Regions from separate parts of the Homo sapiens genome. Here region 1 is linked to region 2. The links come from fine-mapping of genetic effects on gene expression. Tissue or cell type: tibial nerve. Region 2 holds a variant in brackets; the other region holds the start of a gene. All regions are shown on one strand. Distances are between the middles of the regions. Region 1 holds the start of CRISPLD1 (cysteine rich secretory protein LCCL domain containing 1). Region 2 has its middle 72 kb from the start of CRISPLD1.

The links. PIP is the estimated chance that this variant, and not a neighbour inherited with it, causes the effect. A credible set is the group of variants that fine-mapping cannot tell apart.
Region 1: CRISPLD1 starts here. The variant in region 2 is the best candidate, but not a certain one, in a credible set for the expression of CRISPLD1 in tibial nerve (GTEx, PIP 0.56).

Annotation. Positions count from the first base shown.
Region 1 is chr8:74,981,737-74,987,121 of GRCh38, forward strand. It overlaps CRISPLD1 (cysteine rich secretory protein LCCL domain containing 1), which reads left to right and starts at 2,769. Exons shown (of 15, transcript NM_031461.6): 1 at 2,769-3,184; 2 at 4,190-4,509. The coding sequence starts at 4,252.
Region 2 is chr8:75,053,833-75,059,217 of GRCh38, forward strand. No RefSeq gene overlaps it. Among named protein-coding and RNA genes, the nearest start is that of CRISPLD1, 72 kb to the left of the region's middle. The variant TAGA/T (reference allele first, on the strand shown) is at 2,352.

The DNA.
Region 1 (5,385 bases), 72 kb before region 2:
GGAATTCTATTCTTACACCTCCCCAGTAGAGGATGTACTTACCAAAAAAGTGGTGATAGAACAGACATGGAGTCATGAAATTATAACAGTGAACAAAATGTCTATATATACTCACTTTTGCAAATTCAAGGATAGGAAAACACATAAGAATAGATTTAAAGATAACTATGCACATAAGCAGACAATAATAGCCACATGGAAAAAATATGATATTGACAGAAAAATGTATCCTCTTTGTAGAAATGTATCTTGTTAGAATGCTTTGTGGTGCACGTAACTGAATACCCTAGTCACTGTGATTTAAACATTCATTATTTATTTTAGCAAGAAAAATGGAAGATAGGTGTTGCAGTGATTGGTCAATGGCAGGGAGAGTCAGGCCCAGTTGGTCTTTTTGTTTGGCCAGGGTAATGGGTTTCTGCCCTCAGGCTTGTCTGTCTTCTTTGCAAAGTAAGAGCTGCATCTTTCAGTTTCACAGACTTACACACTGGTACCTAAGGAGACATTTTCTCTTTTTGCATCTCTTTTTATTACAGAAGAAAACCCTTGCCAACCCTCCTCCTTACCCCCAAGTCTTCCTTTCAACAGCTAGGGCTGCATGACATGCCCATGCTAAATCAGTCACTGGTGGCAGGGATAGATTGTGATGACTGGCTTTGACTAATCAACATTCGCCTCTTGAAGATGCCAGTTTGACAGCATGTGAGAGGGTGGATATCCCCGGTAAATTGGAGGCTATGGGCTTGGAAGGAAGAAAGGGGTGGAAGGCTGGTTGTTGGTTAGGCAACCACCAGTGTTTGCCACAAGAAAGTAGTAATGCTAAAAACAACCAGGGCTTTACAAGTAACAGCCTTAGCCACAAACCAAAGTGCCACTTTTACGTGAATTCTGTGTGAAGAAGACATTTTCTTATGTCTACACACAGATTTCTCAACTACAAATAAAAAACGTGAACAGTATCATCTTTGAGTATTCAAGAATATTGTGTTTGATTTTACTGTTCAAAATGGCATTTCCAACATATATACTCAATCAGGAATGACAAGATGTATTATTGAAATGCTAACATGATGAATGCTTAAATCACCTGCAGTACCCAAATTGGAAGCCAAAAGAAATGCTGAGTCAAAGGATTTTTTTCCTTGTTTAGAGAAAGATTTGGAATTAAAGACCTAAAACAATTTTTATTTTCTTTAATGTGAGCCTTTAGGTGTTGGATTCATACATTGTGTAAGAATGTTTATAACTGAAATATTCAAGAGTTACAAATTCATTTAACTTCACTTCCCTATCATTTTAATTCCCTTCTTCCTAATTTGAATTCTCTTTGCAAATGTTTCAAGTAATATTATTACTTTCATGGCTCTTTATTCAATATTCAGTATACTTTTCAATGCCACATGGACATTGCAGTATAAAAACATAGTCTTCATCTGCTGTAACAAATGATAGTTCTTTTACCATAAACTTTGGAGGTTTTCTATCAGTTTCTAAGAGGGAAAGCCAGTTTTCTCAACCCTGTGCATGGAAATTATGAATAGTTATTTGAAAAATACAAAGTTAAGAACTTTTTTGTACTTAAAACTGCTAAAAAATTGCAAAATTACACTTCTATAAAAGTCTTATGTGCATCAAAACTTTTCACCTTCTGCACCTTTCTAATAAGTGATGCTTCCCTTTTCTTTGTGACAGGAAGCAAGGTCTCACCTCCAGCTGAGGCTTAGAGTTGAGTTTTTAGGTTTGATAGATATGGTGTAGTTGAATGGTGGAAAGAGACAGGCAACAGCTTGGGATGATTTGAGTTACTACCATAATATTGTACTTTATTTGATCATATGCTAGATACTCTAGCATTTAGAAAGAAGGAAAATTGAGACTATGATTCACCACATTAGGGAAGCAAACATAGATGGATTAAATAATTAAAAATAAAAATAAAAAACAGCCCCACACTTGGTAGGGTAAGCTGTTGTGAATTTAAAATTAGTAATTTTCTTACCCCAGATTACAACATGAACAAAGGAACGGCCTCTCCTTTCACTACCTATTCTAGCGCTGGGGTTTCAATTCCTGTCAACAATCCCTGATAAATTAATGGTACCCTTTATATCAACTCCTTAAATGTATACATCATCAGAAAAAAAAGTGCTATGGCCACCTTGAGAAGACAATGCCTCATATTTTATGAATAAAGAGGGGGTCTCAACTGTCAGGCCATTCTGAGTCACATATTGACCCCAAATTCTATTGAACATCTTCCCCATCTGGTCCTCATCAAGGATGCGGACCCCTGGGAAAAATAAAAGGAAAAGTATTTTTCCATTTCGTCCCCTATTTCCCCTTTTGTGCCTCCAAGATTGAAGGTGTTATCCCCATCCCCCACCCACTCCATGCTCTATGGGGCAGCCCCTCGTCTGTAAGGACCCTTAAAGGCATTTCAGCATCTCAGCAGAAAGGAACTGACTGGGAGGAGGATCTTTGAATGCAGGGGAGCTGGGAGGACTGAGGGGGGTTGGGGCCCTCCTTGCACACATCTCCCACCAGGGGCCAGACCTTCCGGGCTTGGGTCTCGGGAGCCCAAAGCACGCCCACAAAGGCCGAGCGCCCTGGCTTCGCTGCGTTCCGGAGAAGCAGGGCGGGCTGCTTCTCCCGGATCTGGCGGGCCTCTGGCCACGGCTGGTTGGAGGTGGGGGTGGGCGAGGAGGGGCGCTCAAGTCACGTGCCCGCGCTGGGGCCGCAATAAATGCTCGCGAACGCGAGAGAGCGACGGAAGCGCTAGGCGCCTGGTTCTGCGCGTACTGGCTGTACGGAGCAGGAGCAAGAGGTCGCCGCCAGCCTCCGCCGCCGAGCCTCGTTCGTGTCCCCGCCCCTCGCTCCTGCAGCTACTGCTCAGAAACGCTGGGGCGCCCACCCTGGCAGACTAACGAAGCAGCTCCCTTCCCACCCCAACTGCAGGTCTAATTTTGGACGCTTTGCCTGCCATTTCTTCCAGGTTGAGGGAGCCGCAGAGGCGGAGGCTCGCGTATTCCTGCAGTCAGCACCCACGTCGCCCCCGGACGCTCGGTGCTCAGGCCCTTCGCGAGCGGGGCTCTCCGTCTGCGGTCCCTTGTGAAGGCTCTGGGCGGCTGCAGAGGCCGGCCGTCCGGTTTGGCTCACCTCTCCCAGGAAACTTCACACTGGAGAGGTAAGGGCGATTCTAAAATGCATCGCTGAGTCGTCAAGCTGCCACCCTTTCCTATCTCCCTTTGCCTTCTTAAACTGTACTTAAAAAAAAAAAAAAGCCAACTGTACAGAGTGGTTGGGCGCGATGGGTGGGTGGGCTACCCGGAAAGCAGCGACGATAGAAATTAGCGGGAGCTCTAGTTCTTGTAAGTGACTTTGTTGGTTTCACCTACTTTCTCTGTCGCGCGCTTTCCATTTGAGTTCAGAGAAAGAACAGTGTGTGCCTTCACACTTGAGAGGAAAAGCTCTCAAGTTGCCGGGGAGCTGCTGGCTTCTTCGGGTGCAGGCCACAGATTAGTCACAGACTTTCCAGGAAATAAAGATTGAGTTCTTGACCTGAGCCTGAATAGGAAGAGACTTACCCCAGGAACCCAAACCATTCATTTGCAGTAGTTCACGGGGCCCCCTAGATGTAGCCATGGATGCATATATGAATAGCCTTTTGTATTTCTTTGAAACATTCACTCTCAATTTTAGAATGCTGTGGACATTCTGAGTGTGAAACAGAGATGGGCCACTGGAATAAAATAATACCAAATAAAATATTCACACCTTAAAACTCTTCATAGAGAAACATGAACCTCTAGATTGAAATCAAACGTTCTAGGTAGATATAACATCCTTTGCAGGGTATATGTAATGTATAGCCACTTAAAGTCTTGCAATTCACATAGTATTTTCAAGCTTTGACTCTTCTAGGCTACTTTTGCCATTTACTTTTGGCCTCAGGGGTATTATCTTGGATAATACAGTTGTCTAGTTTGTGGAAATTGCATTGTGAAAAGTCCTCTGGAAGAAAAAAAATGGGTTGGAGATAAGTTATTTCAAAATGTGAGTGTCCATTTTCTGCTGTTAAATAGACAAATCAAACTGGCACACTTCCTTTGTAACTGTTGTTTTGCTCGTGTTATTAGAAAATTCATATCTGCTGGAATTTTCATCTTAATCACATGACATGTCGTTATAGCCAAAAGGAGTGGAAGAGCCTGTCTTGGAGATTTTCCTGGGGAAATCCTGAGGTCATTCATTATGAAGTGTACCGCGCGGGAGTGGCTCAGAGTAACCACAGTGCTGTTCATGGCTAGAGCAATTCCAGCCATGGTGGTTCCCAATGCCACTTTATTGGAGAAACTTTTGGAAAAATACATGGATGAGGATGGTGAGTGGTGGATAGCCAAACAACGAGGGAAAAGGGCCATCACAGACAATGACATGCAGAGTATTTTGGACCTTCATAATAAATTACGAAGTCAGGTGTATCCAACAGCCTCTAATATGGAGTATATGGTAAGGACATTTTTCAAGTGGTATGTACAAAAGAAATGTTTATTCATGCTTTCAGTCAGCAGTCTTCATGCTGTTCTTTAATCATTTATTTTATATGAAGTTGAAAAAAGATTTTCTTTGAGGGTATTTTCCTCTGCATATTCGTTTATTAATGTTCCTTTTGTTTCTAAGAGCTCTTGACATTCAGAGTAGGACGAAATGCCTTTAGATGCAATGTTCCTACTAAGTGCTGTAAATTCTACTCTCACCAGGAAGGTTAATATAGTGAAAATGCAAAACAGCTGGTATATTTGCTGTTAATTGACTTAGCTGAAAATTTACTTCCTAATTCCTGATAGAACCTTTTTATGAATGGTGGATCTGAAAAATTCAGACTAATAATCGGAAGAAACTTTCTGGATTGCTGAAATATATTGTTCCTAATGGGTCTTTGTTTCTTATAAACATGTAAATGACATTGTAAAGGATACATTTTTATGGTTGCTTTATGTTGAAGAGTGCTTTGGCAATGGCTTTTTTCTCCCCTTGGATTTATTATTTGTGAACTTGAAGCATGAAAATAAGCCTTGGCAAAGGATTAATTTAAAATATTCAGCTTATCCTTAACAACCTTATATTTACTCTGAGTAAATTTGCAACTTTAAGGGACATAATTACTTTAAGACTACTAGCATATAACTCATGAGTATACTGCCATTTCATACCCTAAACATTTAGAAAACTTTTCAAAAATCTATTATATTCCTTCCATGAATGAGGAATGCACTAGCAAAGCCTGATAATAAATAGTTATTGGTGATGGCAAAACTTATTTAACAAACATTGGAAATGGCATTTTCATTGCAGTTAATTTTCATACATTCTAGTTTTTTTCTG
Region 2 (5,385 bases):
AGAGGAAGAAAAGAATTAAAGGCTGTTATAACTGCTTAATAATAGAATTTTTGCTCCTAGTTGACTGATTGCTCTGGCACTGTGGAAATAATGTTTAATAGAGGGAAAAATTATGATAGTATTACCCAGAACAGATGTGCTAGAAATCATCTCATAACTTTGATATGGCTTTAATTGACAATACAAAACTAAAATCTTCAGATACTTTGAGAACTATAGCTGGACAACCTCTGTATATGTTGTGTGTGAGTTTCAATAAGTGTATAAATTTACATTTCTCATAGATTGAAAGTGTATGAAAAAAATCTTTTAGTGTTCATCTAATCTGCCTTTCATTCCCTTGGTTTGCAGAATCAAAAAAGTTGAAGATGCCCTGTTTTTGCCAAAATTACATAGAGCTGTGACTAATAAAAAATAATTTATTTAGACTTCCAATCATATTTTATATGTCCTTGAGATAAAGCCAAGAATAAGACATAAAACCAAATGTTAGAGTCCTGATACCTCAATGTTTTTAGTACATCTTCACAAACTTCAAAAAGTATCAAAAATCAGTGATTAGAGTATAAGCAGTCTAAATATAATGGTGTGCACCTCATTAATAAGAAATACTTAATCAGATAGCTTAATGTATCAATTTAGAAACATTTGCTTGTTTCATAAGAAGTTATTTTCTAAAAAGTAAAAATTATCTTAACATATACATTGTCACTAAGATACTAAAAAGCTGCCAGAAAACTGTGTCTGTGTGAAATACTCATAAGTCTATCAAATGTGATTATAAGTAATACTAATTATAGCTGTTTTCATATTGTTCTTATTGTGTGCCAGGCACTGTCCTAGGCAGTTCATACACAAATTCACACAATCCACACAACTCAATGAGAAAAGTATTGTTACTGTCATGTTCATTTTATAGATGGTAAGAGGAGTTAAGTAACTTCCTCAAATCCACCCAGAAAATAAATATTGGAGCTAGGATTTGAACTCTAGAAATATGACTGTAGACTCTGTTTTCTTATTTAATCATTTCCTGTCCCACAGACAGCATCTTTTTCATTAGATATATAGACAGCCTAATCTAAGGTGCATCAACTCTCTATGACAATATGCTTTTTAGAATAAGTATAAGGTAGGAGACCAGTACTGGTCCGTGGCTTGTTAGAAACAGGGCTGCACAGCAGGAGGTGAGCAGCGGGCCAGCAAGCATTACCTCCTGAGCTCCACATTTTATGAGATCAGCAGTGGCATTAGTTTTCATAGAAGCATGAACCCTATTGTGAACTGTTCATGTGAGGGATCCAACTGCTCATGTGGCTCCTTGTGAGAATCTAATGCCTGATGATCTGAGGTGAAAATTTCATCCCCCAACCATCTTCCCCTCAACTGTCCCCTGTCCATGGAAAAATTATCTATTTGGACACAAACTGTCATTTTCTTTAGCTGCTCTTAAAATTTTCTCTTTATCTTTAGTTTTTGCCAACCTGACTGATAACTAACTGGTACTTAAAATATTAAATTAACTTGTAGATTTCTCTATATTGTTTATTTTATCTCTTGATTTTTTTTCACATTTTTTTCTTTTCTTTTTTATGCCTTATATGTTTGGATTGGAGGAAAAATCACAGAGATTTTAAATGATGTCATCTTCCTCTGGGTGGGCTAAATTTTCTTGTGGAAAAGAGATTGAGCACCAATATATGACTTTGGTGCTATTAAGGCTTTCAGGCTTTGTTAGGGCTATATATTTTACTTTTGTTCTTATTCCCAGGGTTTAGCCTTATTATTAGAGCATAGCCTTTGTGGGCCTGAAAGCCTTAGGTACTTAGCAAAGGCACCCATGTGGCTGGGGCTGAACTCCAGCTTCTCTTCCAACAACCATGTGGCTACTGCCATCTCTGCTTTGGCATTTTAATTTTTTCACATGCTATTTCTTACTAAGTGGTTTGTATTTGGTTGTTTTCTTTTCTGTTCTTTCTTTCTTTTTCTTTCTTTCTTTCTTTCTTTGGTATGCATTTACAATCACACATACGCATATCTTTGCATGTGTTTGTGAAGGTGTGCAAACACACGTATGAACTCTTAACTATTATGCTACACTATCTAGTTAAAAAATAAATACTTGCATATTAATTTCAAGCACTTTTCCCAGTCATTTTTCTTCTCACTTTTAATTTTGTATCTGTATGTTGTTAACTAGCAAATATTTTAAAAGGTAATTTCTGAATTTTGTCTTATTTACGACCATTCTTACTCCAAGCATGCTTTAAAAAATCTTCAATTTTTTAAAAGTACTTTAAAGTTTGTATTGATTATGTTCAAATGTTAACCCAATCTAAAACTTATTTTGG[TAGA/T]AGGACTGAGGGAAGGAGAAATTCAACTATATTTTTCCAAGTGACTGCCCATTTTTCCTAACAGTATTTTTTGAATAATCTAACTTTTCCAAATAAATTTGAAAATGTTGCCACATTTGAGCTAAATTTTCAGAAATATTTGATATAATTATTGGACCTGTTTTCTGATTCACTGATTTGTTACTCATCCAATACTAACATTTTTTATTGATTTGCTTTGTGATATATTTTAGCGCTTGATGCAGCTTATTACTTATGTTTCTAACAAATTTTCTAGCTAGTCACACATGTTTATATTTCCATATAAAGTGTAAAGTTTTTTTTTTGTTAGTTAAATAGTCCAGTTTGAAAAACAGGTGTGATATTAGGTGTTCTATACTTTTGCCTTTGGTTATAACTATAGTTTCTACCTCCATAATTTTTATACTTTTCATTAAATCAGATCAGTGGTATCTTCAGGGCCTATTACAATTACAAAAGCCCATGCAAAGTTCAGCAGCCTCAAAGATAGAAGTTAGACACACTCATGAATATGAGAAAGAATCAATGAAAAAAAAACACTGAAAACTCAAAAACCCAGAGTGTGTCTTCTCCTCCAAATGATCACAAAACCTCTCCAGCAAGGGCACAAAACTGGGCTGAGGCTGAGATGGATGAATTGACAGAAGTAGGCTTCAGAAGGTGGATAATAAAAAACTTTGCTGAGCTAAAGAAGTATGTTCTAACACAATGCAAAGAAGCTAAGAACCATGATAAAACATTACAGGAGCTCTTAACCAGAATAACCAGTTTAGAGAGAAACATAAATGACCTGATGGAGCCAAAAATCACAACACAAGAACTTCACAATGCAACCATAAGTATCAATAACTGAATAGACCAAGCAGAGGAAAGAATTTCAGAGTTTGAAGACTATCTTGCTGAAATCTTGTCTGACAGGCAGACAAGATTAAAGAAAAAAGAATGAAAATGAATGAACAAAACCTCTGAGAACTATGGGATTAAGTAAAAAGACCTAACCTATGACTAATTGGGGTACCTGAAAGAGATGGGGAGAACAAAACCAAGCTGGAAAACATACTTTAATATATAATCCAGGAGAACTTCCTCAACCTAACAAGACAGGCTAACATTCAAGTTCAGGAAACCCAGAGAACCCTAGTAAGATACTCCATGAGACGATAAACCCCAAGACACATAATCATCAAATTCTCCATGGTCAAAATGAAGAAAATAATGTTAAGGGCAGCCAGAAAGGCCAGGTCACCTACAAAGGGAAGCCCATCAGACTAACAGTGGACCTCTCAGCAGAAACCCTACAAGCCAGAAGAGAGTGGGGGCCAATATTCAACATTCTTAAAGAAAAGAATTTCCAACCCAGAATTTTATATCCAGACAAACTAAGGTTCATAAGTGAAGGAGAAGTAAAATCTTTTTCAGACAAGCAAATGCTGAGGGAATTCATCACCACTAGGCCTGCCTTGCAAGAGCTCCTGAAAGAAATATAGAAAAAAAAAATTAACTAGAATATTTGGTGGAGTAAAAAAAAAAAAAAAAAAAAATTACATTTTTCAAGCAATTTTTCAGAAGAACTAGTCAATATATTTGCTTTAAAAATGTAAGTATATGACTTTAATAAAAACTCATGTGTGACTTAAAAAAAAAGGAAAATAATAAATATGAATAAATATGGAAAGGAAAAACCACTACCTCCGCTTAAGTGCAAATACCAATGACATTACGAAGCAACTACATGAACAAATCTGAAAAATAACCAGCTAGCATCATGATGACAGGATCAAATTCACACATAAAAATATTAACCTTAAATGTAAATGGGTTAAATGCCACAGTTAAAAGACATAGAATGTCAAGCTGGATAGAGTCAAGACCCATAGGTGTGCTGTATTCAAGAGACTGATCTCACATGCAAAGACACATACAGACTCAGAATAAAGGGAAGGAGGGAAATTTACCAAGCAAATTGAAACCAGGAAAAAAAAAGGGGTTGCAATCCTAGTTTCTGACAAAACAGACTTTGAACCAGCAAAGATCAAAAAAGACAAAGAAAGGCATTAAATAATGGTATAGGGATCAATTCAACAGGAAGAGCTAACTATCCTAAATATATATTCATTCAATAAGGAGCATCAAGATTCATAAAATAAATTCTTAGAGACCTACAAAGACACTTAGACTCCCACACAATAATAGTGGGAAAATTTAATAGTAGACAGATCATCAGACAGAAAATTAATAAGGACATTCAGGACTTGAATTCAGCTCTGTATCAAGTGGACATAATAGACATCTACAGAAATCGCCACCTAAAAACAACAGAATATACATTCTTCTCAGTGCCACATGGCACTTACTATAAAATCGATCACATAATTGGAAATAAAATACTCCTCAGCAAATGCAAAAGAACCAAAATTATAACAGTCTCTCAGAACACAGCACAATCAAATTAGAACTCAAAATTAAGGAACTCGCTCAAAACCACACAACTACATAGAAAGGAAACAACCTGCTACTGAATGACTCCTGGGTAAATAATGAAATTAAGGTAGAAATCAAGAAGTTCTTTGAAACCAATGAGAACAGAGGCAACATACCAGAATCACTGGGATGCAGCTAAAGCAGTGTTAAGAGAAAAATTGATAGCACCAAATGCCCACATCAAAAAGCTAGAAAGATCTCAAATCAACATCCTAACACCACAACCAAAAGAACTAGAGAACCAAGAGCAAGCAAACCCAAAAGCTAGCAGAAGACAAGAAATAACCAAAATCAGAGAGGAATGGAAGGAAATAGAGATGGTGAAAAAAGACCTCAAAAAAATCAATGAATCTGGGAGCTTGTTTTTTGAAAAAATAAAATAAATAAAATAAAATAAAATAAAATAAAATAAAATAGATAGATGGATAGCTAAACTAATAAAGAAGAAAAGAGAAAAGAATCAAATAAACACAATAAAAAATGATAAAGGGGTTATCACCACTGACCCCACAGAAATACAAACAACCAT